3 linked regions of the Homo sapiens genome follow. The protein of the gene in region 2 interacts with the protein of the main gene of each other region in a pairwise test. Each region holds a gene or a part of one and is shown on either strand. Other genes may lie near its edges. The genes, in order: KCNN4, RYR2 and CACNA1D.

Region 1 (8,061 bases), on a different chromosome or scaffold from region 2:
ACGACCATCCCCAGTTAGCAGACAAGCAAAGAGGCTCAGAGAGGAGAGCCAAGGTCCCAGCTCAGAGCGGTGGAGCTAGAATCATAAATCGCATACGTCCGAGCCCAAATTTGATGCATAGCATTCACACCCTCAGGGTGGCCTCTTGAATGAAGGATAGGATTGGAGGAGTGAGAGGAAGGCTGGGTTCTGAGCCAGGGGCAGGCCTCTGGGTCCTCAGTGCTCATGTGGTCAGCCATTGCACTGTGGAGGGCGACCATCCTTCTCCCACTCCCACAACTTCTTCCTAGCTCCAGCCCTGTCTTCTCTCTCCTGGACCGTCTCCAGCCTCCCACTCATCCTCCCCTAACCCCCTTGGTCCCCTCTAATCTCCCAGGCTTCCACTGGCCTGAACGTCTCAGCCTGGCTCCCAAGGCCTTCCAAGGTCTATGCCTCCCACCTGGACAACTCAGCCCTGGCTCCATGCTGCCTGCCCTCCCTGAGCACCTTCCTCCGAACACTCATTCTCCTCCCTTCCTTCTCCCAATGCTCCTGGCCCTTCAAGGCCTTGGCAATTCCTAGCTGCTTGTGGCATCTGCTCACCTGTCCCCAAGTTAGAAGGAATCTTCCTAGGAAGCATCCCCAACCCTATAGTTTCAGCTCTTGATCACTCAGAACAACTTCCAGTCACAAACGCTGGCTCCAGGGGACTGCCTGGGTTCCAAGCCCAGCTCTGAGCAAGTTATTTAATCTCTCAGTATTTCAGTGTCTCATCTGTGAAATGGCCTCACAGGGTTACTAGGTGGATTTCATGAATTACCCCTGGCAAGTGTGTAGGGCAGAGACTGGCACAGAGTATGTGCTCCGGAAAAGTAAGCTTTTATGGCCCAACCATGCCATGGAGCCTTTCTTCCAGGAGCAGGCTGTGAGCTCAAGTGCACATCACCCTATCTCTCTAGGTTTCTGTTTCTCCTTTTGTCAAATGAGGGAGGAGGTCCTGAGCGGTGCTGCAGGTCCCTAACTGAGTCTCTGCCCCTCTTCCCTTGCTCCAAAGACTCACCACTGGGGGAGTGGAGGTCACCACATCCTTCACCTGTGCACCTAGGGATTGGGGGATGAATATGTCCTTCCTAGGCCCACATCTGGGCTAGGTGCTGGTGGCTTAGGTCCCCGAGGGTGAGGGGAACCCGATCTTGTAGGGAGGTGAAGGCCAAGGCATTAGGTGCTAGTCTCTAGAGGGGGCCAGGGCTGGGTGGGAGGACCTGAGTGACTGGGTCTATGGAGGGAAGGAGGTGGATGTCAGGGTTCAGGAAGAGGCTGACTCAGGCTGCAGAGCCTCTGCCTCATCCTTGAGGGCAACAGGAGCTGGTGTGGGGTGGCTGGATGCCTGGCCACCCCTAGACCTGTTTACTGAGCACCTCCTGTGGGCTGGGCACTGTTGGAAGCACTTTACGTAGTTGGACCCATTTAATCATCTCAGCAAGCCCATGAGGAGCATCAGCATCCCCATTTTATAGATGAGGAAAGTGAGGCCCCGAGAGATCACGTGGCTCGCCTGAGCTCCCCAGCCAGGAAGTGGCAGCCGCAGGATTCGGACCCAGGTAGCCTGGCCCCACAGGTATGCACTTGATAACTGGACTCTACACCCTTGATGGAGGCTGGGAGACGATTTCCCAGTTCTGGAAGAAAATGGGGCTGCGAAGTCAGGAGCCTGGGTCCCTGAGGAGGATAAGGGCTGGGGCCCTAGGTTCTAGAGAGAGCAAGGACTTAGGGGCTGGATTCCTAGGTCTGATTTTTTATTTTATTTTTTAAGAGACAGGGTCTCACTCTGCCACCCAGGCTGGAGTGCAGCAGTATGATCATAGCTCACTGTACCCTCAAACTCTTGGGCTCAAGTGATCCTCCCACCTTGGCCTCCCAAAATATTGGGATTACAGGTGAGTATCTTGTTCTTGAAGAGAGAATGGGGCTCTGGGGGCCCCAGACACTCAAGTTTCTCAGGAGCTGTCCCTGAGAGCCTGTGTTGAACCCATTTAATCATGGCTTCCTGGGGCCAGAGGATGACCAGTTTGGGATAGGGATCATGTCCCCAAGGCAGCTGTACTCACCATGACTCCAGTGCACAGGCAGACGATCTTGCCCCACATGGTGCCCGGCACCACGTCACCATAGCCGATGGTCAGGAATGTGATGGGGATCAGCCAAAGTGTGTCTGAAAGGTGCCCAGTGGCATTAACAGCCTGCCTATGGGGAAGGGTAGGTTAGTTCTAAAACCCCACCATAGAGGTTTCCATGATATTCACTCCCCTTCCCTCTATACCCTCCCATCCCCTTCCCTCTGGTTCCCTCCCTTCCCCTCCCAGTATACACCCATAGTCCTAAGAATCACCTGGACAAAAAGCCATTAAGTTCTGAGCTTTGGAAAGCCTGCATGGCCTCCTCTCTGCTGTGTGACCTGGGCAAGTTGCTTAGCCACTCTGGGATTTGAGACTGGGTCTGGCCAATCCCAATGCCGGTATGGTCTCAGCTAGGCTACCCGGGCTGCTGTAGCATTCAGAGCGTGTGGTTGAGGGTGGAGAGTCGATAGGGGGCCAAAACCCAGTCAGACCCTGACTGGTGGCTACATCCACCCAGAGGAAGGGGTATATTTTTCTAATTTCCACAAAGATGCTGTGTGGTCCAGAAGTGGCCCTATCAGGACCAAAAAGGACTCTAAAAAGGCTTGGTGGGACTCGGCCTTCCTTTCCTCTCACTTCACAGAGGAGACATTTAAGTCCAGCCATGGAAGGGGTTGAAACATTGAGATTTGTCTAACTTTGTCCACAGGCCCCTTGCCGCAAGACCAGCAGGGAAAGCTTCATTCATGAGGGCCCCTGACACCCCAGACCCACCGGGTTGGAGTTTCTAGGAGCGAAGATGGAATCTGTACTGTTCACAAACCCCACCCCCTCATTCCGAAGTACATTCTAGTTTCAGGACTTCTGCCTTGGAATGTGGAACTTTGACTTCCTCCCCATTCTCCCATCATTCAATTGAGAAACATGGTGGGGGGATCATTCATTAATCCTGATTCTGACCAATTTCCCAATTGTGAAAACTAAGATCCTGGAAGGTGAAGGAGTTTAAACTCATGACAGAGGGCGGGCATGGTAATCCCAGCACTTTGGGAGGCTTAGGCAGGAGGATCACTTGAAATCAAGAGTTCAAAACCAGCCTGGGCAACACGGTAACGTGGTCTCTACTAAAAATACAAAAACTAGTCAGGCATGGTGGTGCACATCCGTAATCCCAGCCACTAGGGAGGCTGAGGCATGAGAATTGCTTGAAGCCGGGAGGCAGAGGTTGCAGGGAGCAGAGATTGTGCCACTGCACGCTAGCCTGGATAATTGAGACTCCAGATCAAAAAACAAGAACTGCCAGGGAGACTACAGATGGTGGAACGTGACATGCATTTTTCAGATGAGGAAACTGAGGCTCAGAGAGGAGAGATCTAAAGCCAGATCTTCTCATTCTCCTCCTGCCCTGAAGGATCTTTGCCACATACACTAGACCAGAGGTTCTCAACCTTGGTTGGGCCATAGAATCACCTGGAAGGCTTGCTAAAGTGGATTGCTGGCCCTACCCTCCAGGATTCAGTAGGTCTGGAAGGGACCTGAGAGTTTTCATTTGCAAGTTCCCAGGTGATGCTGCTGGTCTTGAAATCACACTTTGAGGACCACTGGCTGAGATCACTCCCAACCTCGTTTTTCTCTGAAAGGGATAGAAATTGAGGCGCGGCATCGGGTTACACAGTATCTAGCTGGCAACCAGGATCTAGTTCCAATTCCCTGCTTGGAATTATTTTCCAGAGCAGTTCCAAATCATCCCCTTCCTAGGATCACAAAAAGCACCTACCTACAGTGCATTCCGTGCTAATTGGGAAAATATGTCTCCTTCCTCCAAGGCAGAGGCAACCCTTTAGGCAGGTCCCAGAGATAGGTTCGGAGACCGAACAGATGGCCTGTAAACCTGAGGCAGAGGTCAGGCAGCCGGAAGGGAGGGGCTTTCTAGGGTCTGTGTGTGCGTTTGGGGAGACTGAAGGCTGCAGGTGGAGGATTGGCTGGGGGCTTGTCTGTTGGTTCCTCTCACCCCAGTTGATGGGAGTGTGGGCAAATTTCAGCCAGCAAGAGGAGAAGGGGTCAAAGTGTGAACTTTCTCCACTGCTTGGTCCTAGGGGGCCTCAACCTGCACCGCGGCACAGGACGGCCGCCGTGGCTGTCCGGGGTTCCCCCCTGCGCATTTATGCCTCCATCACCCTCACCTCTCGGCCACGGACAGCACCCAGGCGGTGGTCAGCCAGAGGCCAAGCGTGAGGCCGAGCAGCAGGCGGCCAGGGTGCGTGTTCATGTAAAGCTTGGCCACGAACCAGTGGCGGAAGCGGACTTGATTGAGAGCGCCGATGCTGCGGTAGGAAGCGTTGAGCAGGACGCCGCTGCGCAGGAGCACGGCGCGGGGCACCAGGTAGAGACGCAGCAGCATGGCCAGGGACAGCAGCGCTTCCCCTTGGCCCAGGAATCCCGGCCAGGGCTGCGGGGAGGTCAGCGGCGCCCCTAAATCCTGCACGCACGGCGGGCCCCGCACGGGCGCCGGGTGCAGCCCACACACCACCAGCTCCAGCACGATCTGCGCCGCCTGCCGCCCGGTCAGCGCCACGCGCCAGTCCCGCAGCCCGTTGTCGGTCATGAACAGCTGCCGGTAGGGGGCCAAGAAGGGAGGGGTCAGGAGCAGGTCAGGCGCAGGTCAGGCGGCGGCCCGCGCCTGCCTGCGCCCTGAGATAAGTGGGGTGTGCCGCCTGGCCAGGAGGGAGGGAGTGCAGGGCGGGAGAGGGATAGGGAGGGAGCGGGACAGGACTTGAGGAAGACATCTTTCCACTTTTTCCTCCTTCCCCACCACCCACCCCACTAGTTTCAGCCCACTTCCAGCCTTTGAACACTGACTGAGCGCCGACTGTGTGCCTGACATTGTTCTATGTGCTAAGGATACACAGTGAACCCAACAGACCCCCCTGCCTCCCTAGAGCTTGCATTCCACATGCCTGGAGCTCGCTCCTACTCCCCTTTCGGTTGACACGCGTAATAACTGTAATAATAATATCAGCAATAACAAAGCCATGGGCCGGGCGCGATGGCTTACGCCTGTAATCCCAGCACTTTGGGAGGCTGCGGTGGGTGGATCACTTGAGGTCAAGAGTTTGAGACAAGCCTGGCCAACATGGTGAAACTCCATCTCTACTGAAAAATACAAAAATAAGCCGGGCATGGTGGCGCACACCTATAGTCCCAGCTTCTGGGGAGTCTGAGGTAGGAGAATCACTTGAACCCAGGAGGCAGAGGTTGCAGTGAGCTGAGGTCATGCCACTGCACTCTAGCCTGGGTGACAGAGCGAGACTCCATCTCAAAATAAACAAAACAATAACAATAACAAAATCAGCATGTACTGGGCACCGTGGATACGCCAGGTACTGCTCTATCCCGTTTACATATTGTGACTTAGTAAATGCCCACAACCCAGTGAGATTGATATTATTATTGCCCCCATTTTATAGATGTGGAAGCTGAGGCCCAGGTCCCTTCCATGGGCAATGGCGCACTGGGCTACAGGCTACTTAGCTACTCTATGATAAGATGATAATGTGCACTGTTTACTGAGCACCTCTTATGTGCCAGGCACTGCTCATAGAATTGCCACACATGGCCAATAATCCCCATTTTACATGCAAAGTTATGATAGGAGAGGGGGAAGAGGGGAAAGGGAATGGAGCAACAGGATCTGGGGCAATGGGACAATAGGGGATGGGATGTGTCTGGGTGAGACCCAAGGTGGGGTATGGATGGGGAGAGCTCCTGGGTCTGGGGCAAGAGGGAGGTTATTGGCACAGAGATAGGGTGATTAGGAGTGGGCACCCCTGGGACCGGACCAGGTGCAGTGGCTCAAGCCCGTAATCCTAGCACTTTGGGAGGACAAGGTGGGCAGACTGCTTGAGCTCAGTAGTTGGAGACCAGCCTGGACAACATAGTGAAACCCCGTTTCTACTAAAATACAAAAAAATTAGCTGGGCGTGGTGGCATCTGCCTGTAGTCACAGCTACTTGGGAGGCTGAGGCATGAGAATTGTTTGAACCCAGGAGGTGGAGGTTGCAGTGAGCAGAGATCGTGCCACTCCACTCTAGCCTGGGCAACAGAGCAAGACCTTGTCTCAAAAAAAAAAAAAAAAAAAAAAAAAAAAAGGAGTGGGCAGCCCTAGGACCTTAGGTTGCTTGAGGACTGGATTGGGGATGCCATGTCGGAGCACAGAGATCTGGGAAGCTGAGTGCCTGGGAGCAGAGTGGACAGAGGCCTGGGGGCGGAAGCAGGGCTGCAAGGGCACTCTCAGCATCCGTGAGTGTGCAAGGGGGGGCTGGGGACTACAGGGGAAGGCGGAGCTGGTGGGGGAGGCTCTGCCTGTCTGCTCATGGTTCATCCCATCTGGGTAGGTGAGGGTGTGGACGCAGCACCTAGGGCAGAAGAACTTCATTACTCAGATCAGGAGGAGGAGGAGGGTGGAAAGTGTGAGCTGACAGGGCGCTGAGGGGGTTGGAGGGAGCAAGGCTTAGGGGCGGGGCCTGCCCTACCTGGACCTCTTTGGCATGAAAGGCCACGATGAGGCAGAGGAGTAAGAAGGTGGAAATGCTGATCGTGCATTTAACCAGGAACAGGTAGAGCGCCCACTGTCAGGGGGGACGGAAAAAGCGGTGTGAGATCCCAGGTCTCCCTCCGCCTGGCCCTCCACCTTTCCTTCAAAACCACCATTTTTTTTTTTTGATTCCCAATTTTCCTAGCCTCCTTCCCCTGCAAATCAGTCCCTCTTGATGTGTCGGTTCTGGAGAAGTCTCAAAACCATCATCTGGGCCCAGTGCGGTGGCTCACACCTGTAATCCCAACACTCTGGGAGGCTGAGGCAGGTGGATCACCGAAGGTCGGGAGTTTGAGACCCCCTGGCCAACATGGTGAAACCCAGTCTCTACTAAAAAAACAAAAAATTAGCTGGGTGTGTAATCCCAGCTACTTGGGAGGCTGAGGAACCAGAATCTTGAACCCAGGAGGTGGAAGTTGCAGTGAGCTGAGAGATCGCGCCACTGCACTCCAGCCTGGGCAACAGAGCGAGTCTCCGTCTCGAAACAAGCAAGCAAGCAAACAAACAAACAAAAAAACACCATCATCTGGTCCCCAGGAATGCTCTCTTTCTCCCCAACAGGACAACCCTGTCCAGATGCTGGTGTCTACCCTCTTCCTCAGCTCTTCTCCCAAGACCCATACCCATGAAGGGGGACCTTGAAACTCACATTCCTTCTTATTCCTGTCCCATTTCACATCAAAAATAGTTCTTCAGGTGTGTGTGTGTGTGTGTGTGTGTGTGGGTGTGTGTGTGTGGTGTCTAGAAAAAGACATCTAGCCTCTAGAGAGTGCCCCCTCCCCTTCCCTTCCTACCCACCTGGTGTTGTCCTAGAAACCAACTTCAATCAACCCCAACCCCAGATCTGGAAGAATGTAGAAACTACCATTCAATCCTCAAAGACTGAGTCACACCCTTCTCTGCTCTCATCCGGAGGGCTGAGTCCCTGAGACCCAGCCTCAGCTCTGAGACAGCCCCCTCGGTTCTGCCCCCCTGCAGCTCCCCACTGCCACCCCTCTCTTCTGGCTCTAAGCCCAGGGCAGATCTGGCCGGAAGCACAGGGCCTCCAGAAACCACGGAGAAATTGTTCCTTTTTTTTTTTTTCCTCTCTTTGTGTGGCACAACCTTGGAGGAATCTAGAATTCTGGAGAGAGGGATTTAGAGGGGACTGGGACTGTTGGATTTCCTAAGAGGGGTTGGTCCCTGCCTGGCGGGTATTTGCAGGGGGAGGGGACCACCTGGGCGTCCTTACAAAGCATTGCACCTGTTTCTCCTAAGAGGGCTGCCAGCTCCCCTGGCTGGGCCAGCATCCCGCCTCTGAGCAGGGGAAGAGGGCCAGTTTCCTGCCCCAGGGGCCTGCTCCCCAACCCCCTATCAGAACAATAGTGCTGT
Region 2 (11,514 bases):
CACTTCCCTACTTATTTGGAATACTTCCTTAACATGCTATGCATACAGACGGTGTTCAACAAATGTTTTCTGAATTAATCTAATTCCCACAATGTCAGAGTTTCAGGAAAAATGTGTGCTTCATCACCTCTCCCTCTCTCCCGAAAGCTATCTAAAGAAGCACAGTCACCCAGTGCTGCTGGAGTCCTTTCTTGGGTAATTCAGCCGTGATAAAAACACTTATCTGAAGCCAAAGTACAAATACAATTGAATGTCAAATAAATTAGTGCCCTAAGCGTTTTAGATCTTGCCCTTCCTGCCAATGTGTACATGCTAATTTCTAAGTTAAAATAAAATAAGTCTGATGATGTAAGCCTGGGTGGGCTTTCCATCAGTTCCTTGGGAAAATACCATAGTGCATATCTATCTAAAGCTCCTCGTAGCTTCATTATGAAGGGAGCAAAAAGTGCGAATTTCCACTGCTCATTCCATCTTTTCCTTTGTACTCTGTGACATTCCTACAGCTGAGAAAACTGACTTGGTATTCTTTTGCTATAAACCTAAAACATACTTGAACAGCAGATAAAGAAGCCTTTCTCTCCTGGAAAGAACACTATTAGCCTAAGATTTGAATTTTAGTCCTCGTTCTGCACTGCTGAGTACTGACTTCATACCATTAACCTTCCTGGACCTCTACAAACTAGGGCTAAGTATTCCCATCCAAACTACTATGCAGTGTTGTACACCAGCATCTATACTGCATAATTGTCACCATTTGTAGATGAGTATATTTAAAGATGCTTCTTGTCATTGTGGAACAAGATGTATGAACACTGAGAAGAAATCTATAATGAAATACTTCATTCTGCAAAAGAAGACAGGAGGAAGACCGTAAGCATTCCTATCAGGATCATTCTTACAGCCAGGACTAAGCTTTAAGTCTCAATCTATGGGTAAATACAAAACTACATGACACAGTACACCACAAGGGTAACTCAACTGTGCTTAGACAAATGAAAGAAAGACAAAGTACTCAAAAAAAAAAAAAAAAAAAAAAAAAACCTTGACCAAGGTCATTTTATACCATGGTTTTCCTAAAGTCAGAGGAATATCTTCTATAACATTCTGTATGATTGTTGGAAAAAAAAAAAAAAAGAGGACCATAACGAAAAAGATGCGTGTTTTTAAATGCCAAATGACAGTTTGATGCTACATTGGTAAGTTAATAAAATCTTTAAAATAAAACACACATTCCAAATCATGGATATGTTTGGATATGACAGTGAATGAATCCATTACAAGCTGACAGCTTATTTTATGATAGGATTTTTCTCTCATAAAATAAGTGTCCCAGCATATCCAGAGTTTACAAAAACATATTTTCAATCTCTCTCAAAGATAAACAGACCCAAGTGGGCAGGTTTCCAACAGATGGGGGAGCCACTGAATCAATGATCATTCATCTACATAACTATTTGGAAGGAATGTGAGCCAACTCGACAAGCAGCAGCAAATGGAACAGAGATGCCAGAGAGACAGGTACAAGCTAAACAGTGACAAACCCCTTTGCAAATGAGGAATTAATTTACAGCAGCATACATAACTCACAGATACAGCCCATTAAAGATTTCACCTCTACTTCCCTTAACAGTGATCTCACACCTCTTCTAAAAAAAGAAAAGCAAAAAAGCTTTCTGTGGACAGTGGTCAAAAAGATGCCTCAATGTGCTGGGGTGCTGAATACAAATCCAATAGACAATGACCTGCTCAAGATAATAATCCAGATGTTCTAATCAGGACATATGAAATGTCCCATCAAATTCACAATTACGGTGTCTTAATGACTGTTTTTGTTTTTCTATGCAAAACAGCTTCATCCATCACTATCAAGAATTCTTCCATCTACAACTGTTTTATCAAGATGTACAGATTCCTAATACTCCTTGGGCTATTTGCTTTAAAAAAAAAAAAAAAGAAGAAGAAGAAGAAATAACTCATATTGACAAGCTTGCACATGACAGAGAAATAAATGCCCTCAGAAAAAAAAGAAGCGACTTCAATGTGGGAACTATACTACAGTCTCCCCATTATTCACCCCATCAGCATTTCTGAACCACCAACATTCTCAGGTTAAGAGAAAAAAAAGGGGGGTGGGGGAGGGAAGGATGGAGGGTAATGGGTGGAGAAGCCGGTAAAGGATTTGAGAATTTCCATATGAAAATTGGAAAATTGTGAGGAAAGGCATGTTTTCCTTTTAGATGTTAATGCTATACCAAAAAAAAAAAAATCCCCCTGCTCCACTGTGTCACCTCCTTCAAGGTCATTTGTCGTCAGCACAGCAACCTACGGATGTTTTATTAAAAGAAAAATCCCAGCCTGGGACTGCCAGATCTCTACCCAGGACCCACTTATCAAAGGTGCTGCTCTAGCTGACAGGCAGCTGCTGAGTGGCACAGAGTTGACATTACTTGATATGTGCAGAACCTCATCAGCCAGCACGTTCCCTCGGTCCCCATTAAGCATTCTGATAACACCACCTCCATGAGCTCGGCTTAACAGTTAAGCCCGCAGGAAGCCCTTGAGTGCATGAAGCCTACCAAAATGTCCCAGCTAGTTTTAACCCCACAGAGTTTGATACGAATTGATTGAAAAATTATACAGCAACCGTATTTGTCCACCTGAATAAAATAGTCCTTAGTTTTGAGAAAAATCTAATGTGGTGTTAATTACTTAAAAAAAAAAAAACCCTTATAGTCTATTTTCTATGAAAAAGACAACTGTATTACTAGCAGGTTTATACACCGTGACCAAGGTATTAGTGAAGAGGCTCTTCCAAGCCCGGTCTTGGGCCAACAGTACTTCAAAAAGCATATGCAATGGTGCATAACCTGCAGCTATTAGACTGGATTACTATTAGGTTGTCATCTGATGTGGACCCTGGGTTTTTATCCTTCCCAAAGCTTTCTCCCAGTCCGTTTAATGCACAAAAGAGAAAGAGACAGTCGTTTACAACGTTCCTTTGCAAATTCGCTGTTTTCATATGTTTAGTACCCAAATACATCAAGACTATTTTCACACCTAAAAGTTAATATTCCAAAATTCCACCGTATCTACGATTTTCTGTGATTATAGGTAACTGTAACCGGGAAGTGGTTTTGTTTGTTTGTTTGTTTTGTTTTGTTTTGTTTTTGTACTGCTGAGGAAAGAAGTACCAGCAGAAGCTGCAGTTCTAGGTTGGGGAAGTCTGGGGAATCCTGCAAGGGAACATCCTTCGGGAAGGAGGACAGAAGTGGAGAAGGAACGACTGAAAGGATGCTAACTAGGTTATTATTAGCAGGAAGTTAGGGCATTTTCTTTTCTGGAGAGGCTCTCCAGTCCCAGCTTGGAGGTGTGCAATGCCTCAGCCTGGGAAGTATCTGCAGTGTTCGAACAAATGAGAGAAAGGAAGGAGCAGTGCCAAGAGGTACTTAAGGAGAAAGAATTGTATTAGTGTGGAGCCAACCTTTCCCGGGCAGCCACCCTGCCCTTACACTTACACACACACACTTTGCTTCACTTGGCATGCAATAAGCCAGCATTTAGAGAACGACACGTTCACGATGTTCTCCCCACCACCACCCGCGCGCGCGCACACACGCAAACACACGCTCGCTTCCCATGCCTTCCACGCTTTGCAAGCGGTCACAGCACCACCACGGATGGCACCAGCCCCGGGAACCGCGGGGACCACGGAGGCGACTCCTCCTCCGCTTTCGCAGCACCTTGACTTGGGGGAAACCTCCGCGCAGCGTCCTGCACCATCACCCCCGCCCCCGGTCAGCTGCGCCGCACGCTACACGGAGTAAGCGAACCAACGTCTTCGCTCCGTGACAACGCGCGGGTCCAGCCCGAAAGCCCAAGAAACCTCCCGGCGGCGGTATTCCCAGAAACAGCCCGAGTTCCCGCCGCTCCCCGCGCCCCCACGGGCCACCCTGCTCTGCACCCTGCCCCCGGCCGCCCGGGAGGTCCCAGCCGTGCCACCAGGCAGGCCGGACCGGCCGTCCCCTCCTCTCCCGGTTCCCGCAGCTCCGACGCTCCTGTCCCCGGTGCCCCGGGTCCGAGCCCGGGCGCCTGCCGCCGGCTAGCCGCGCTCCATCCTCTAGCTTTCCACACGCGCGCACAGACACGCGCCCTTGCCTTCCCTCGCCCCAACACGCACACCTGCACACACTTGGTGATGCCCGCTCCTCCCGCATCCTCAGGGGGCACCCCCTCGCCCCGCCCGCGAGTCCCCGCTGCCCGCTGTCACTCTGCCCGGACCCCGCTAGTGGATGCCCTGACGCCCCCTTCCCCTGACAGCACACGCGACGCACGGCGCTTACAGTTCGCAGGAACTGGATCTCGTCTTCGCCCTCGCCCCCATCGGCCATGGTTCCGCGCCTCCTCGCCGGGGCCGGCTCCCGAGCCCCGCGGAGCTCGGCGGCGGCGGCGGCCCCTGGCGCTGCCTTCTGCTTCTGCTGCCGGGAGCCGGGGGCTGGAGGGGGCCGCGCTGCCGGGTGCCGAGCGCCGGGCGGTCCCCGCCTGCAGAGCGGAGGAGGAGGCGCGGACGCTCGGGCGCGGGTGGTCGAGGCGCGGGGCCTCCCTGCTCCGCACTGTGCGGGAGGAGGGCGGCCCGGGCCCGGAGGACGCGGGGAAGCAGCCCCGCAGCCCAGCCGCGCTCGCTGCCTGCAGCCGGCGGTCCGCTCGGCCCCGGCTCCTCCGAGCAAGTGCGCGGAGCCAGCTGAGCCGGGGTTAGTGCAGCGGTGGGGGTGGGGTGTGGGGGCGGGCGGGGAGGAGCTCGGCGGCTCCCCGCTGCTGCAGGTAATCCGCAGCCCGCTCCTCCGGGCCGCCAAACCCGAGGCCCAGCGCCACTTACTGGCTGCGCTGGGAATCGGGGCCGGAGCGCACCCGGCGAGCGCACAGCCTCCTACCTGCGCCCCGCTGGGGTCCCTGGGCTCATTCCCCTGCCCCTTCCGAGCTTAAAACCGCCGGCACGACGCCCCTTCCTCCTGGACTGGGCTAGGGCACTAACTTCCACGGCACTTCGGATCGCACGGAAGAATGATATCTTTCACCTGGGCGCACGGGGTGGCTAATCTCCAAGTAGAGATTACGCAACACCTGGTATTTTAAACGTGGATTACCTCTATTCATGATCAAATGGGAATTCTTCAAGATCTAGTTTTAGTGTACCATGCTTTTCGCAGATAATCGATGCAAAGTGCACGGTTTTGGTGCACAGAACTTTAACATTCAACAAATATACAGTGAGCGCCTATGCCAGACAATGTGGTACAAGACAGACCCAGAAGTGTGTAGTCTGTATTCGAAGTGCAAGCCTTAATTCAACAAGGAATTGCGGTAAAGTATGGGATACTATCTATAAGTCTGAACCACTGGATGGGTCTAAAGTCAGACTGTGCTACCCATTATCCTTGCTGAGAGAAGAAATTCGAGCATTCCACCGCAGATAGTAATATCTTGCTCTCGCAATCCTCCATGCAATAGTCTACCAAATGCCTACTTAACAAACGGCTATGACTAAGAAAATACAGGGTCTGAGACAATTTGGACAAGAAAGCAATTTGTCTCTTGTTCCTAGTCCACAGCGCTTTCATTTATCGTACTTAAAATAAGTATGTGCAAAGTAAAGTTTTCAAATGTCAGTACTACGGAGATGCAGACATTGTAAAACAAGGATTTTTGCGTCCGTTTACCTACATCTTACATTCTGCGGCATCTAACTCATTATTAAAATCGACCACTGAGTTCTATACAGTTTATATTTTATTTTTAGCATTCATTAACTTTGTACTTACTGGGGTAGGTTTGTAAATTTCCAGGAGAATGACAATATGTGTATAAATACTCGCTGTCCGTGGTAGAACTAGTAATGTTCTGCCCTATCTCATGGAAGTATACCAGTCACCTTACCTAAAAACTTGACCTATCCCTGTAGCCATGACGACTAACCAACTCTTAAACCGTTATTATTTATGTGAATGTTTACTCTTACGAGTCTCTAAAGGAACAACCAGTGAGCTCCCAAAAAGTCGGGTAAGAGTCCTCCATGAGCAATGACTATATTCTGAAATTGGCTCCTGATTTAATGTTAAATGATTTGATCTTCCAAATTTAGAACGTATCAAATTGACGTTTTAAACTATTTTATTCAGAACTATGCAGAGACAGGTTTCTTAATTACTCCATTCTACCCAGATGGTAGGTAAAATAATATAAAAACGCTTACCACGTCTTCATTTTGGCATTTTAACTAGGCTGTAAACTGTTCTAGCAAGAGTTATGGTTATTATTTCTTTAGTTCTCTCAATGTAAGTGGAATAATGCTAAAAGGCCTAGACACTCGATGTTTCTTATTCACCCCATACAGTCTTCAACAGCAAGTAGACATAGAGCAGAGACTATTTATAAAACACACCGTGTATGTGGACTTTAAAACACAAAAATACAAAACTATGAGGTTTATAGATCTCTAGTCTGTTCTAAAAGTATAAAAATATGTTTGAGAATGATATACAACATTTATTTTTAAAAAGAAAACCAAAGCAAATATAACAAGTGTTTTAATACTGGTGATGGGCATATTGGTGGAATATTATTTTTGGTACTCTGATATTCTGTTATATTTCATAATTACATAACAAAATAATTTTTACAAGAAAGCAACTTCAGTGAAAGCTATGGAAACTTTTTACTTATAGCTTTTTTAAAAAAAATTTAACCCTTTTGGATAATTTAGTTATAATTCCCTAGTTTCTTCTTCTGGTGGACAATTGTAGTAAGAATTCCAGTGCAGAGATCATAGGATACTAACTAACCTCAATTTTAAGTGTACTTGAGAAAAAATACATAAAATTTGGATACAGCTTAAAGTTTATGTTTACTGTATTTAATTCTTATTGTAGACTCAGACTAAAAGAAATTAACAAGTAGACCTTTTTCTAGGCACAAAACTATAGTTCATTAAATAGAAAAAAATTATTTACAATTTTCATTAGAAAATAGTATTTGATATCTATATATTTTGTAATTTTTATTAAAATATTTATTGGCTGGGCATAATGGCTCACACTTGTTATCCCAGTGCTTTGAGAGGCCAAAACAGGAGGATTGCTTGAAGCCAGGAGTTCAAAACGAGCCTGGGCAATGGAGACCTCATCTCTACCAAAAAAAAAAAAAATTTTAATTAGCTAGGCATGGTGGCACAAACCTGTAGTTCTAGCTACTGGGAGGTTGAGGTAGGAGGATTGCTTGAGCCCAGGAGTTTGAGGCTGCAGTGAGCTATGATCAAGCCACTACCCTAGTAACAGAGCAAGACCTGATCTCAAAAAAAAAAAAAAATTCTCTTTTTCTAAATTCGTGTTATGTATAATAGCTTATTTTGCTTTTTATTATCTTAATATTGCTTTATTATAATATAATCTTTATATTCAATAGATACTACATTTTAAATCTTTATTAATCATAAAATTATTAATAAAAAGTTTAGAGGATGACATTTCTATGTTTCTTAGTCCAAATTTGGGAAGTATTCTTCTTTATGACTAATTTTATATTCTGCAAGAGAGGGAAAAATTATATTTTTGCTTTTTTAATTAAGAGTTTTTCTGCAGTCATCTAATTAAGAATGGGCCATCGTAGCCCACTTATTCACTTGGCAGGATGCTAGACAGCCTTAAAGAAGAAAAAAATTAGGACAAATGTAAGCTTTTTCATTTTGACTTACAATTTACTAAGCTCCCCAATGATGTACATGAGCTTAAAAAATTAACTTCTTCCTCAAGGTTTCTACGGAAACTCAGCAAAATACTCAATGTTATCATTTTAATTCAGCTCCTTTCAATTAAGATTACATACATTAAAGGCTTTATTACTGACTTGAAAGCCTCTGGAATTGTCATCGAATCATTATAAAATTAGGATTAGAGAGCCTCTAACGTCCTGAGATTTAGCCCATTTCTTGTTAACTCAGATTTCCTGTTTCAAAATCTCTAAGGAACATTTCATACCTATCTTCTTATCCCACTTCAGAACTCAACAGACCAACATTTTACAAAATTTCCATTTTATTTACATCCTTATTGCATGTGTTCTAAAATACTATAATTCTTATGAGCACCTGTCCTAGAAATAAATCCCTGGGAAATTCACCACAAGCCAGTCCTCAGGTCACATGGCCTGAATCTCTGCATTAATGCAAGATGGCCAGAAATTACATTACGAATGATGACGATGGTGATGAAACTTCATTTATTGAGCATTTACTATGCTCCGAGCACTTGCATTTTATTTTTTCTTTTCGTCTTCGCAGCAATATCATTTTTGAAAAACAGGAAAGAAGACTTAAAGAAGTTAAGTAGCTTGGCCAAGAGTATGCAGCTGCTGAGTTTTGACACAGGGGTCCGAGGACTTATACTCCTCCCCTACCTCCATCCCAAAGCGGAAAGCACAAAAAAGAGTCTAGACTAGCATGAACTATAAAAGGCTCTGGCAGCCCCGGGAGATCTGTCCCTGGTTTCAGGCCAAAGCAGGTCCTGCTAGCTCTTGGAATGCCAAGTAAGTTCTGGAAAGAGACAGAGATTACTATGTGTTCAGAAATAATATCCAATTTGTGCCTTTCTCCGCAGTTTGGATTCTTAGGGTAAATCAGTTTTTCAAGACTTGAAGGTTATTCACCACTATCGTATTAGTTCCTTTCCAAATTATGAAGCCCCAAACTACAATTAGTATTCTGATTTCCAGGGTCAGGACTGAACTACATGCAGATAGAAAAAGTACACATGATCTACCTCTTGGCATCGGAGGAGCCCTGGACATCACAGAGAAGGATGTCCCCACCCGACGAAAAGTTTGCTTATTACTGTAGTCCCCTCTTACCCACAGCTTTGCTTTCTGCAGTTCCAGTTACTCAAAGTTCCAAAATTTAAAATGGAAAATTCTAGAAATAAACAATTCCTACATTTTTAATTGTGTGCCAGTTTGAGTAGCGTGATGAAACCTTGTACCATCTCACTCTGTCCCATTCGGGACATGAATCATCCCTTTGTCCAGCGCATCCACTCTTCTGTACTCCCCACCGTTAGCCAGTAGCTGTTTCAATAATCAAATCGACTATCGCGGTATCATGGTGCCTGTGTTCATGTATCCCTTATTTTACTTCATAATGACTCCAAAGTGCATGAGTAGTGATGCTGGCATATTGTTATTATTGTTCTATTTTATTACTAGTTATCATCGTTCATCTCTTACTGTGCCTCTTATAAACTAAACTTAAACCTAGGTTTGTATGTATAGGGGAAAAACACAGCATACATAGGGTTCAGTCCTATCCATGGTTTTGAGCGTCCCCTGGGGTCTTGGAATGTATCCCCTACAGATCAGGAGGTATGGGTTCCTAAGGAAATGTGGGTTCCCCAGCCTCATTTCCAACTCAAATTGCCTAGTGGCTTCCCAAGTAGGTCATTCTGACTGTCACGTGTCTCTGAAGGCAGATCTTCCTCCTGATTTGCCTATTTCTGTTGTACTACAGCTCGAATCCAAACTCTGATCACCATTTTTGATTCCTCTCTCACCTTTCCCACTGAACATCAGTGTCTTTTTATAAGTAAAAGGCATTTTCCTGATTCTTGTCTTTATATCCCAGAGTAATTTCACTAACATCATCACTAATCTTCCTGTTTCTTATGCTTTTCCAGTGCAAATCATCTTCCTGACTCCCACCAGCACCACCCCCTATAATAATGTTTTCATCTTGTCACTTCCTTGCCCAATAAGAACTAGAACCATTGAAAGGTGGCCCCCAGATGCCTCCAGGTTATGTTCAAACCCCTCAGCTTGGCTTTGGAGACTCCCCACGATATAGCCTTAAACATACCTTTTCAATATTTCTTTCCTAGTATTCCCATTTTGCCTCCCAACCAGACTACTGTTCTGCAGATTAAAAAGCTACTCAGCCGTGCCTCTTCTTTTGCTATTTCTTTAGCCATCCAGGGCCACAAAATCCTGCTGAAATCCACTCCATGCTTCAAGGACTAGTTCAAAGCCCCCTTCTGGGCTTTGATTACTCTGGCCAGAGATTGTATCTCCCTCCTGTGAACCACAGCCCTTGATCCTGTATTGCCCAGGCCTGTAGGTGTATGTTTAAGGGTAATGTCCCTCAAATGCAATAACTACTGCATAGAGGCAGAGAAAATGTGTCTACTTTTTTATTATACTTCTTTTCTTTATGGGTAATAATTAAGATCCTTTCTGTTGATGGTCATGAACTGCTTGTTTACCATTTTGTAGATACCTTTCTACTTTCACTTTCCTTTTAAGAAAATTCCATTTTGAAACACCTTTCTTCTTTTTATCCCTTCCTCTATGTGGAGTTCATTCTTTAACTGCAGGGTGCTAACCACTTTGCTGTGTTCAGTAACACAAAAGTAACCTCCAAACGCTTGTGTCCATAGAGTTTGTCCCAGCATGAGACCCATCTCTAATGTCTTCTAGGTATTCACAGAACAACAGGACATGAGCAGGTTCTTTGAACCCTTTATTCGTTCGTTCATTCGACAAACGTTTATTGCGTGTGTCCCAGGCTTTGTCCTAGCAAATAAAGCACTGGCCCTATCTTCATGGGGCTTTTATTCTAGGGGAGGAGCTAGATACCAACAAGTAAATGTATATGTCAGGTGCATTGAGTGCTATCAAAAAATACAAAGCAGAAGCCAGGAGGAGTAGCTCGGGCCTGTAGCCCCAGCTACTTGGGAGGCAGAGGTGGAGGTGGTAGGATTGCTTGAGTTCAAGTCCAGCCTGGGCAACATAGTAAGACCCTGTCAAGAAAGAAAAGAAAAGAAAAGAGAGAGAAAGAGAGAGAGAAGGAAGGAAGGAAAGAGGGAAGGAAGGAAGGAAGGAAGGAAGGAAGGAAGGAAGGAAGGAAGGAAAGAGGGAAGGAAGGAAGGAAGGAAAGAGGGAAGGAAGGAAGGAAGGAGCAAGCAGGATAAAGGTTAACAGAGGGGCCAGTTTTGTAGAGAAAATGGTCAGGGAAGACATCCCTGATGAAGTCACATGGCAACAGTAGCTTGAATCAAGCCAGGGAATGAGCCTTGTGGCTATCTAAGGGAAGAGCACTCCACGCAGAGGGATTGGTATGTGCGAAGGCTTGGAGTTGAGAGTGTACATGGCATGTGTGAACGATTACGAGGAGGGCAGGGAAGGGCAGTGCAGTGGTGCACTATGGGCAGAGCGAAGGAGGGAGCAGGAGGGTGCTGGATGATGAGGCCAGGGAGACAGCAAACACAATACATACCCTGCCCATTCCGAATGGGAACATTCATTGCTTTTTTTCAGGAAAAAGAGTTTAGTGTGCTCAGTCTGGTTTAAACTAGGCCACCTGGCTACCCATTTTAACACCTAACCTGAATCTCCATGCTCTCTATACATTTCTAATTCCTGGATACTAGAAATCTACCATCTGAGTAGAAATTCTCCTTACCTGTTGAAGTTTGCTAAGAG
Region 3 (10,561 bases), on a different chromosome or scaffold from region 2:
CACTCCTGCCCACTCAGCTCCTCTCTGGCACTGTGGCTGGTGGGATTCATGTGCTTGCTTGCTTGGCCAAGTAGGCAGTAGACAAAGGCCGAGGCCCGAGGAAGGCAGTGGAACTCACAAGGGCGAGGGCCATCACCCGGCCTCACCTGCATCTGCTTCATCTAGTATTTATGGGAAAGGAGTGACTTCATTTAGCTGCATGTGTTCAGGGCTGAGGAATTAAATATTAACCATGGAAATGGGTCTGGTCACACTCCCCAGTGGGGCTGTGACAGTTGGAGTGAGGCAGAGGGCCCTGGGCACCTCCCAGTGGTGCTCTTTATAGTATATGCAGTTGGCAGACTCAGAAGCCGATGTGTCACGGCTATTTTTGGTTACTGATTAGAGTCCTGTTCAAAAATATGCTTCATTCCTCAGAAATTCCAGAAATGGATAGTCCTTAACCATCAGCAAAATGCCCACATGTCCAAAATGAAACTGTTCAGCCAAGGGCTGGAAGGGGCCAGGGCTGCACCTCTTCCCCCAGCTGGAGTTCCTTGCTCAGGATGACCCAGATCCGCCAGCTCCTGCCACCCACCGCTGCAGAGGGAAAGCAGGTGGAAGCAGCCAGCCCCAGCCCCAGCCCCTCTAGGTGGGATGGGTTTCCTGGCCCCAGAGTGAAGGGGACCAACAAGTCCAGAACCTGCCCCGTGAGCAGAGGGCACTGACAGACTTGACAGGAAGATGAGGGAGAAGCAGAGAAAGTGAGGGAGGAGGAGGGAAGGCAAGGGAGAGGAAGGGGGAGGAGGGAAGATGAGGGAGGAGGGAGGAGGGAGGAGGAGGGAGGAGAGGGGGAGGGAAAAGAAGGAGGAGGAGGGTAGATGAGGGAGGAGGAAGATAAAGGAAGATGCTAGAAGACGAAGGAGGAGGAAGATGAGGGAAGATGAGAGAAAATGAGGGAGGAGGAGGAGGGAACATGAGGGAGGAGGAGGAGGGAACATGAGGGAGGAGGAGGGAAGATGAGGGAGGAACGGAGGAGGAGGGAAGATGAGGGAGGGAGGAGGAGGGAAGATGAGGGAGGAGGAGGAGGGAAGATGAGGGAGCAGGAGAAGATGAGGGAGGAGGAGAAGATGCGGGAGGAGGAGGAGGAGGGAAGATGAGGGAGGAGGAGGAAAGATGGAGGAGGAGGGAAGATGGAGGAGGAGGAGGGAAGATAGAGGAGGAGGAGGGAAGATGAGGGAGGAAGAGGGAAGATGAGGGAGGAGGAGGGAAGATGAGGGAGGAGGAGGGAAGATGGAGGAGGAGGAGGGAAGATGAGGGAGGGAGGAGGAGCAGAGATGAGGGAGGAGGATAAGGCTTGGAGGGGCCTGAGGACAGATGGACACCAGAATGCCCAGGTGGCCCTCAGAGGCATGGGGTTTTGCAAGACAGGCCTGCGGCACAGCCAGCTCTGCACTTGAGCCCACTCTTCCCCTTTGGGGGCTCAGTCACCCCATCACAGAGTGCAGCAGGGCTGACAACAGCAAAAGCATGTGTGTGGTTTGCCTCCCTCTCAGGATGGTCCCAGGTTCAAAGACAATGCTATGTATGCAAAACACCCCTTACCAGATGTGTGCGTGCAATCTTAGGGCCCCACAGCCTCTCTCTTCTCAAAGAGAGTCAAGCATAGCACTGAAGAGGCTAGAGCTCTATCACGTGAGATATGGATGAGAAAGGAAGGAAAGCAGACACACTCTCTGGCTGGGGGCTGGTCTTGAGGACTAAGGATCCTGACCTGGCAGCACACATCCATCACCGGCCCCCAGAGCGGGGGTTGGGGGAGAGGTACACTGTTCCCCGGGAGGTTCCACCCAAAACAAAAAATCTGGCCTCACATGCTGGGGTGGGAGGTAGTAGGCGTCTCCTTGGAGATCTCCGTGAATCATAGCAAACGGGCGAGTCATCGTCCTCCAAGAATCCTTGGGGATGATGGTAGCCTCGGGGCCTCTCAGAGTCGATGTTTCTGCCTGGGTATCTGCTGTAGTAGCCATAGTTTTGCCTGGAGGTCAGAGAGGAGGGCAGTAAGGTTCTAGGTAACAAGCTCTGTCACTCAACCCTGCCAGACTGACATCCATACTCCTCTCCCCGCCTCCTCCCTTGGACACAGTAGGATTGGCTGAGAACAAGGCTGGCCTCAGTTTCATGGAAGATTCCAGATGGAGACCAAGGGCCATTACAGGACTGGAGGCCTGTGCTGAGGGATGTGCTGGCAGTTTTGATCCCTCAGCTCCAGGGCAAATGTGGATCGCAGATGTCCTGTGAGCCAGGCTCTCACCCACTCATTTCCTCCGTGAGAGCCCCTCTCCTGAGTGCCTTCCCTCTGCCAGGTGCTGGGCACCAAGGACACCAAGATGCATGAAGCATGAGCCCCACCCTCAATGGGCTTAGAAAATGCCATGAGCACACAGAAATCAAATGCGAGCTGGAAAGGGCCAGTGCTGGAAGAGAGGAACTCATGCGGTTCGTGAGGTTTTCTTTTCTGGGGGTTGGGGGAGGGATTTCAATTCCAGTCATGGAAATAAAAAGCAAGGCCCTAGAGCAGGCCCTCGACAGGGGGGATGAGGCCAGCAGACGGAGTGAGGGCATCCAAGCAGGGGCCACAGTGTGAGCAAAAGCCCTAGAGAAGGGAACACGAGTTCATCTGGCTCAGAGTCAGTGGTTTCAGAAGTCAGGCATTTGAGAGAGGCACGGGGAAGGGCTGCGGGAGCAGAGGGTGAGGGTCAGGCTGTGGCTCAGATGCCAGAAGCCACCTCACTGCCATTCCACTTCCACTTCACTGGGCCCCTGGTCACAGTGAGGTGCGGTTCAGAGAAGAGGGTGGAGGGCGATTTTCATCCGCCTGTGCCGCCTGCTACGCCTCCTAAAGCAGAGTGCCCATTGTACTAACAAACATTCTTTCTGTAGGACAGAAGCAAGATGGACCCCTCTGCTGAGTGACCCCTCATTTCTTCATCTCCCCGAGAGACCCCTTGAAGTGGCAGGAGGCAGGTGCTGTGCATGAGGACCTGGCCCAGCTCCAGGCTGGCCAAGCCGCCGTCCACACAGAGCCCTGGGGCCGCCAGAGCTCCAAGTGTTAATTCAGCAAAAACTGATCTCTCCAAAGACGGGTGGTGGAAAGGCATTAACCCAGCCACGAAGCAGGCCCATCTCCCATTTCCCAAGCCTTCACTAAAAGGCCTCAGAGGCCCCTAGTGGAAATAAGGCAACAGGTCTGAAAGAATAGCCCTCACCCTGCCTCTCTGCGGCTCTCTTTCTCCAGCTCCACTCTCCCTCTGGCCTGGAGTTTCTGCTCCCATTTTGCTTTTTAGGGGAAGCCCAAGTGCAGCTGCCGGTGGCCCTGGCTTCCGGAGTGGGCCGAGCACCAGGGCAGGGCGGCCTCCCGCTCTCCACAGGAGCCAGAGCAGCTCACCTGCTCCAGGTGGGCGAGCTGTCATCCTCGTAGCATTCCTCACTACTGAAATACTCCTGCTCCCCCAAGCAGTGGGGGTCCCTGAAATAGCCATGTATCTCTGGGTCTTCCCGGCAAATAGTTGGGAGCTGTTCATCTCCTGAGTCGGACCTGCAGTTGGGAGAGAGGATCTGAGAACCTGGGCAGGCGGCAGATAATTCCTGCTGCAGCTGCACCTCTGCCTGTGGCCGGCAACCCTGCCCGGGTGCTCCTGGCTTCTCCCAGCGCGCACCTGCCTCAGGCAGCACTGGACTGTTCCGGCTTCTGGCAACAGCACCGTGTGTGTGTCTGTGTGTGTGGTGTGCCTGCGGGCCAGGATAGGGTCTCTCTCAGTGCCCTGCACAATGTTGGTGTCAAACCATTGTGTCCAGAGGCCTTGGAGCCAAAGGAATAGGTGCAATTTGGAGAACAGAACAAAAAAATGGACCTAGGGAAAAAGACCCTGGGTTCCCAGGGCATCTGCTCTGATCCCTCCCTCTCCTTCTAGTCCCCCAGCTCCAGCCCAGTGTGACTTCAGAACCTGGAACAAAGGAGCTTCCTGGCCACTGACCTCCTGCTGTATCAAATCAGGAAGGTCGAGTGAGTTCTGGATACAGTGCCACAGGGGAAACTGTCACAGAACATGTCCACCATGTTTCCAAAGGCTGCCCTGCCCCAGGAATGTGGTAAGTCTCCCTGAAACCCGGCTCATCCTGGCCTCAGTCCTCAGAGAAGGACGTGGTGATGTCAATCCTCTCTCCAAAGGAAGGATGGCACTTCCTCTGACTTCTCCACTTTCTTGCACCCAACTTGGGCCCACATGGCTCCCGACTTCACTTCATAACATGACACAGGAAGACCCATCCTCCCTTGGCCCCCAACAAAATGGGCATTCCGCCCACAATTCAACTCAGGTCAATACATGTGGAGTGGAATATACTACACATATCTTGAGGGCTACAGGGAAAATGACAAGATCCCATTCCTGACCTTCAGGAGGTTTGGGTCATGCTGCAAAGCACCCACAAGAAGCTTGACCCCAGAGAGCAGCCGGAGCTGCCAGCCACACAGGCTGAGGCCCCTGTAAATGCACAATGGATGCTCCTAGTGCCATCGCGAGGCCTGCAGGAGCCAGCCCATGGGGTGCACCTTGTGTGTGGACACCAGTCCTTGGATGGCAACAGAGTCGACAGAGATATGGATCTGAAGGTGCCTTTGCTTAGAAGCAACAACCTCTGACCTCTGAGTCCACAGCCATGAATTATGATAACCTTTAATAGGCTGGCTCAAAGAAGTGTTTCTCATTCTTCAGCACTCAGAGAGGCCAGCTGGTAACATACCATCACAGTATTTAACACAAAAACAGGTAATGAGCACATACCTAATGTAAGTTTCATAATAGCGGGTTCTATCCAGGAAAGGCATAACATGGGAAGGAGGGAGAAGATAAAAGTTAATTTCCAACCAAATTTACAATGCAAACATCAGGCTACCTCCTAGAGTAGGGGTTAGCAAATTATGATTCGCCATCCACATAGGGGCTGCCACCTGGCCTTGTATGACCCATGGGCTATGAACGGGTTTTATTGTTATAAAGGATTGAAAAACATAAAAAAGAATCTGAAGACAAAAAATATCTCATCATATGCAAATATATGAAGTTCAAATTTCAGTGACCATAGGGAAATTTTAATGGGCACAGCCACACACCCATTCACTTACATATTTCACACTGCAACGGCAGAGCTGAGAAGGTGCAAGACTGTATGGTTCTCAAAGCCTAAAATATTGACTCACTGACCCTTTAGAGAAACAATTCACCAACCCCTGTCGCACAGTATGTGAGCACAATTGAGAGGTGGATTTTGTGGCTGCTGCTGTTTTAAGGTCCCTCGGCACCCCACACAGGATGTAGGATGGCACGTGGCCCTTATCCTTTAGGTCCATCACGTGGAGAGTGTCAGAGGCAGCAGTGACCTGGGGGGCACTCACAGATCCTGACACAAATGCCTACGGGGAACCTCCTCCATGCCCCAGAGCACAGAGCACAGACCCGCCTTGCTCCTTGGGACTAGACGCAACACGGGCAGACACCACATGAGCAAGTCCAAACACATTGTCAAGGTTACCTTTTCACACTGGACCTTCTCTGAGGCTCCCGGTCATGCTTGTGGGAAGAATGATGCCCATTTTCAGACACATGCTCAAGGTTCCCAATGCTGGGCCGCTTTCCATGGGCAGCTTTGGACATATTGGCATTATTGAGATTGGCATTTGTTGAGGTGGGAACTTGCTTTCCTATGGAATTATGGTTATGATGGTTATGACACACCGAATTTCCTGCTGGAGGAAACAGCGGTTTCTCAGTATCACTTGCAGGTGGAATTGAAGGCCTTTGGACATGCAGGGGACGGTGGGTGGTATTGGTCTGCTGAAGGGAATCTCTCCTATCACTATTAACATGATTGACATGGTTTCCAAGCAGGGCACCATTTCTCTGCAAAATAATGGGAGACAACACCAGGTAATTTAACAAGTATTTGATGCAGACTAGCTATGTTAGGTAACTTTTTCTACATGAAAAACAAATTCTAGGCAAGCTCCGTAGGATCCCTGTAAAACAATCTGAGTGTCTCAATGATCAGGGTGAATGTGACTGTGTGGCAGTTGGTCCCCCCGAGATGAGGAAGGTTACCGATTTCCTGAGCTGGGGAGCAAGCTGTCGGCTGTCACTCGAGTGTGCTCTTCCAGTTGCTCCAAGTTGGGGTGACTTATACCCAGCTGGGCTGGCTGGTGGCCCCAAGGTTGGGCATGCTCTCTGGGCTGGGGGACTGACAGCCAGCTGGCAGATCAAAGAGCTGGCCCGGGAAGGAGGAGGGTAGCAAAGGCAGCTGCCGGAAGGACTCAGGATGCTCATCCACAGGGCCAGCGGCTGTGGCCGAGCTCCTCAGAAGCAGGCAGTGAGGGGAAGCTGGGTAAGCTCAGGGAAAGAGCTGGCCTGGCCCTAGAAGAGGTGCTGATGCCTGGGGAGGGTCTGTAAGAGGGGGAGGGTGTGGTCTGAAAGCCCCTCTAGGCCCTGGGGATGGGCTGCATTCTCCAGACTCTTCTGTGGATGATTAACTGCCCAAACTGGAGTCCTGCCCTGCTATTTCCAGATGGCCAGTGTGTAGCTAGGCGTGGAATAATTACTTTGAACACATCATCTTCTTCTTCTCGTTTTGTTTCCTCAGGCTCGTCATCTTGCAAATCACACGATATAGCACGCCGGATTTCTGGCCCAATGTCATGCAGTGTCCTTAATCCCGCCTAGATCAATGAAAATGGCAGAACAGGTTAGACCACACATGGGCCCTGGGGCCAGCCTGGGTCCTGGCTTTGCTCCTTCCTGATTCAGCGGTGGGGAGGAAGGCTTCCCCAAAAGCCAATCCAGGGCACTGACTGATGTCACTGAAGGCAGTCTAAGGGTTGTTGGTATGGTCAGGCATCCAGAGGGTCAAGAAGGTCCTAGGTAGGATGCCTGAGGCCTGCAACCCCGTAACCTCCTTTGCAAAACCCCCACTTCCAAGGAACACTGCCTGGTTACTAGTGCTAGGATCTGCCAGGCCAAGAGCTTATGCCCCTGTCTCAGTGACAGTCTTCAGTAGGCTCGCCTACAAGAGCCCTATCTCTCCAAGCCCAGAGCAGGGCAAGGAGCACAGCCTGGCCGATCTAAAGGGAGGCTGATGTGGACTCCCTTGCTGCATCTAGGATGAGGAAGCCTAGGTGTAGGTGCCAGAGGCACAAGCAGACCAAGCAGTCCTCAGGCCACTGGTTCTGCTAAAAAGCCATGGAACGAGTGAGTGACACAACACACTGCAACCACCAGCACACTCGGACCACGACGGAGCAGACTGACACGCACACCGACCCGGCCACCGTGGTCATCAGGATACCCTGGCCTGTAGCCTGTGTGCAGGCTGAGAACTCACCAACAGGGGGTCCGCTTTTTGAAGATCACAACAAACTGAAAGTGGCTTATCAGCCTTTGCAGGCAGTGCAAGACCCACCAGAAGACACCCCTGGTAGATCCCTCTGGGCCCGTCACAGATACTCTGCATCTCCCCTGGCGCCCTCACAGCTGCCTTCCTCACTGTGGTCCCTGCTATGTTGAGACAGGGCCCAGGATAAGCCCTTCCATTGTTCATGACTTCATTAGGGAAGCATTCCAAGATGCTTATGCATGGTGCATGGAGGAAGGTACTGCTCCAGCTCTGAGAGAATGATGATGTTTTGACCACCAGTTTGAAGGAAAACAGTATGCTGAGTTAAAGACTAATAGGGACTGTATGGCAACTTTATTCTTTTCCACAGAAAGTCCTGCATCTGAAGAAGGCATGTCCTCTCTGCCCTGGGTCTACGGTCCTGTATCCAGGCAGCCCCTCCTCACTCACTGGCAGTCTGTCCACAGCTCTGTAGCCCTAAAGGCCTGGAGAACAGCTAAGACAATGGATGTGCAGCAAATGCTTCAACCTCAGGGTGGTTTGCAAAGGAAAACTGGACTAAGTGGTGGGTCCTCGGAGAGGAGACCGCTTCCCTGTCCTTCCTCCACAACACCTCTTAGCATGTGGGCAGCTGTGGCAAGGACAGATAGGCATGATGACCATCCCTGAGACAAGCATGGGGTAGAACAGATGCCCAGAAGTGGTTCAGGGAGGAGGAGGGGATGGTGGCTGCAGTCTGGCCAGATCCATCAGGGCTGGGTCCCACTGGTCTGGGGATGCTCAAAACTGGTCTCCTGCAGTTGCCAATGCCAGTGCTGGTGATGATAATTTAGAATGTAAAGTCACACAGGAACTTCCCAAGAGGCCCTTATAAAAATAGCCTGGTGCACAAAAGCACCAAGCCTTTGAGACAATTCTGCTAAAAATGGTGCCAGGTTGGGTTTGGTTTGAACCATTCTGTGAAGATAGAGCAGCAGATCTTTCCATTTAGTGAATTCTGAAGGTGAAGGAAGAGCTGGGAATGAAAGCTTTAAGCTTCCTGACTAGGAATGCTGAGATCTTATAGGGGACAGACAGTCATGTCCCGGGTCAAACCAAGACAGTTCTTGGGGTGGTCAGGGAGGCTGCTTCTTGCTCTCCTGTCCCTCTGATCACAGGCTCAGGATGCATGTGTGTACACATATGCACATGTGGGTATGCTTGTGCATACACGTGCGTGCACGTGCACACACACACGCACACACACGCACACACACACACACACACGCACACATACACACACTTTCCCTCTCTCAGGATCCACGAGTTCAGCACATCTGAGCCTGGGAAGTCATTTGGTTCTGAGGTGGACCCACCTGCCATTCTCATGGAAACATCAAGAAGGCAACTGTAATGCTATGTTGGTAAAAGCTCTTACACAGCACAGCTGCAGGAACGTGAAGAAAGGTCATACCCGGCAGTACTAAACAGCCGCATTTCATTCATTCAGAGCTTCCTAGGGTACATCATCAAGGGATGGTGAGCTAAGCAAGGGGTTCACTTCTGATTTTGGATCAACTGGGAAGAAAACTCGGTTACATATCTAAGGCTCCCAAACAAAAAGACAAGGTTTAAGACACCTGCTGCTGCTTCCACAAAATAAACATAGGTTATAATGCACTTAAGTCAACACCCCCAAGTAAATTTGGTACATTAATCCATATTACAAGGCAGTAAAGGCCAGAAATGCTCCCAAGTTTAAACAACATATAATCCTATTTACTGTCATTCAACTGATTGGACTAGGTCTGATTAAAAGAAATAGAAAACTATTTATTTGGATAATTTTTAACATCATCCTCTGTTGACGGGTTGACATTTCACTGAAATACACATATAACATAATTGCATAATAGAAACAAAAACTGTCTCCAGCACATCTTCAGTGATACACAAGATTAGGATTTAGTCGACAAGATAGTGCAATGAACAGACATGGGACAGAGAATTTGTTTGCAACATAAATCATGGAGAAGGTTGAAAGGTGGCCCAAGTTGCCACTTCCAAAGACAAATAATGACAACATATTTATTAAAGAGACATTAGAGGAGGAGAGAAGAATCGCTCTTCCCAGACACAGAAGCAGAGAGTCAGAAATCATGATTATATTCTGCTTGTTCCAGGCAGGAAAAAACAGACCTCATAAGAGTCAGGGACTGACTCTACTTTTTCACATGTGTTCTGGGTAGGGCCAGGTCAGGCTGTCCCCCACGACTGGGAGTGAGGGAAACAGATGTTCCCAAACTAGAATTGACATGAAGCTTAAGCACAGCACCCTGAATTTATTACATATCACAAAACATGGTAATGAAGTTTTTCTAGCACACATATCAAGCTAAAAGGTAGCTTAGGCTGCTCCCAAAATTCCATAGGCACAAGTTCCAATCCCCAGAAATACAGAAAACTATCTTAGACTCTTGAAAAAATTACTTTTCCACAGCCCTAAAAAAAAGAACATTTTTTTTCTTGGGATAAACACTTTACAAACAGTAAAATTATCTATTCTTTCATATCTCATATCTGTGTCTACCTCTATCAGCAAAATACTATTTTAATTTGAAAAGTGGTCATTAGCACTTAAACCAACACAATTAAAGCCATATAAAGTCATTCCATTAACATCACAGCAGAAATATGGTTTTGAAGAAACACAGAGTTGCTATAAAATATAAACATTATTGACTTATTTTAAGATGTCCAATCTTATAAAATATTAAACAGAATCAAGCCTAGTTTCTGGTTGATTTTAAAATGCTAGATGTTATCATAAATAATTTTTAGAAAAGAAATGTTGGCGCTTTGCCTGTAGACTGCTGCTTAAAATTTTAGACACCATTTAGTTGGAATTTCATAGATATTCTATTGAATGATTAAGTTACCAAAAAAAACTAAAATGTCTCAAAACACTTCTGAATAGCATAATATGATGACATTTTGACATCAAATATGAACACCCATTTACCTTTCTTTCTCCTGCCCACTTTTAGGGTTAAGTTTCTCCTGCCTAGATGCATTTGCAATGCTTTTGCTGCCTGTGTCCCTAAGCTAGCTCCATCAGACACACCAGCCATCTGCCAGCCCTCACAGCGCCACAGCA

What was found.
Region 1: the proteins of RYR2 (region 2) and KCNN4 come close enough for resonance energy transfer, tested with the Homo sapiens proteins (one study listed by BioGRID).
Region 3: the proteins of RYR2 (region 2) and CACNA1D come close enough for resonance energy transfer, tested with the Homo sapiens proteins (one study listed by BioGRID).

Annotation. Positions count from the first base shown.
Region 1 is NC_000019.10:43,769,913-43,777,973, forward strand, and holds part of KCNN4 (intermediate conductance calcium-activated potassium channel protein 4), read right to left. Parts: intron 6,725-8,061; coding exon 6,629-6,724; intron 4,708-6,628; coding exon 4,280-4,707; intron 3,989-4,279; exon of another isoform or gene 3,988-3,988; coding exon of another isoform or gene 3,891-3,987; exon of another isoform or gene 3,885-3,890; coding exon of another isoform or gene 3,874-3,884; intron 2,224-3,873; coding exon 2,088-2,223; intron 1-2,087. UniProt on the Homo sapiens protein: Intermediate conductance calcium-activated potassium channel that mediates the voltage-independent transmembrane transfer of potassium across the cell membrane through a constitutive interaction with calmodulin which binds the intracellular calcium allowing its opening.
Region 2 is NC_000001.11:237,035,396-237,046,909, reverse strand, and holds the start of RYR2 (ryanodine receptor 2), read right to left. Parts: upstream 4,727-11,514; 5' UTR 4,389-4,726; coding exon 4,341-4,388; intron 1-4,340. UniProt on the Homo sapiens protein: Cytosolic calcium-activated calcium channel that mediates the release of Ca(2+) from the sarcoplasmic reticulum into the cytosol and thereby plays a key role in triggering cardiac muscle contraction. Aberrant channel activation can lead to cardiac arrhythmia.
Region 3 is NC_000003.12:53,796,439-53,806,999, reverse strand, and holds part of CACNA1D (voltage-dependent L-type calcium channel subunit alpha-1D), read right to left. Parts: exon of another isoform or gene 9,217-10,561; intron 6,752-9,216; coding exon 6,635-6,751; intron 5,943-6,634; coding exon 5,575-5,942; intron 4,854-5,574; coding exon 4,827-4,853; intron 3,578-4,826; coding exon 3,428-3,577; intron 2,018-3,427; coding exon 1,854-2,017; intron 1-1,853. UniProt on the Homo sapiens protein: Voltage-sensitive calcium channels (VSCC) mediate the entry of calcium ions into excitable cells and are also involved in a variety of calcium-dependent processes, including muscle contraction, hormone or neurotransmitter release, gene expression, cell motility, cell division and cell death.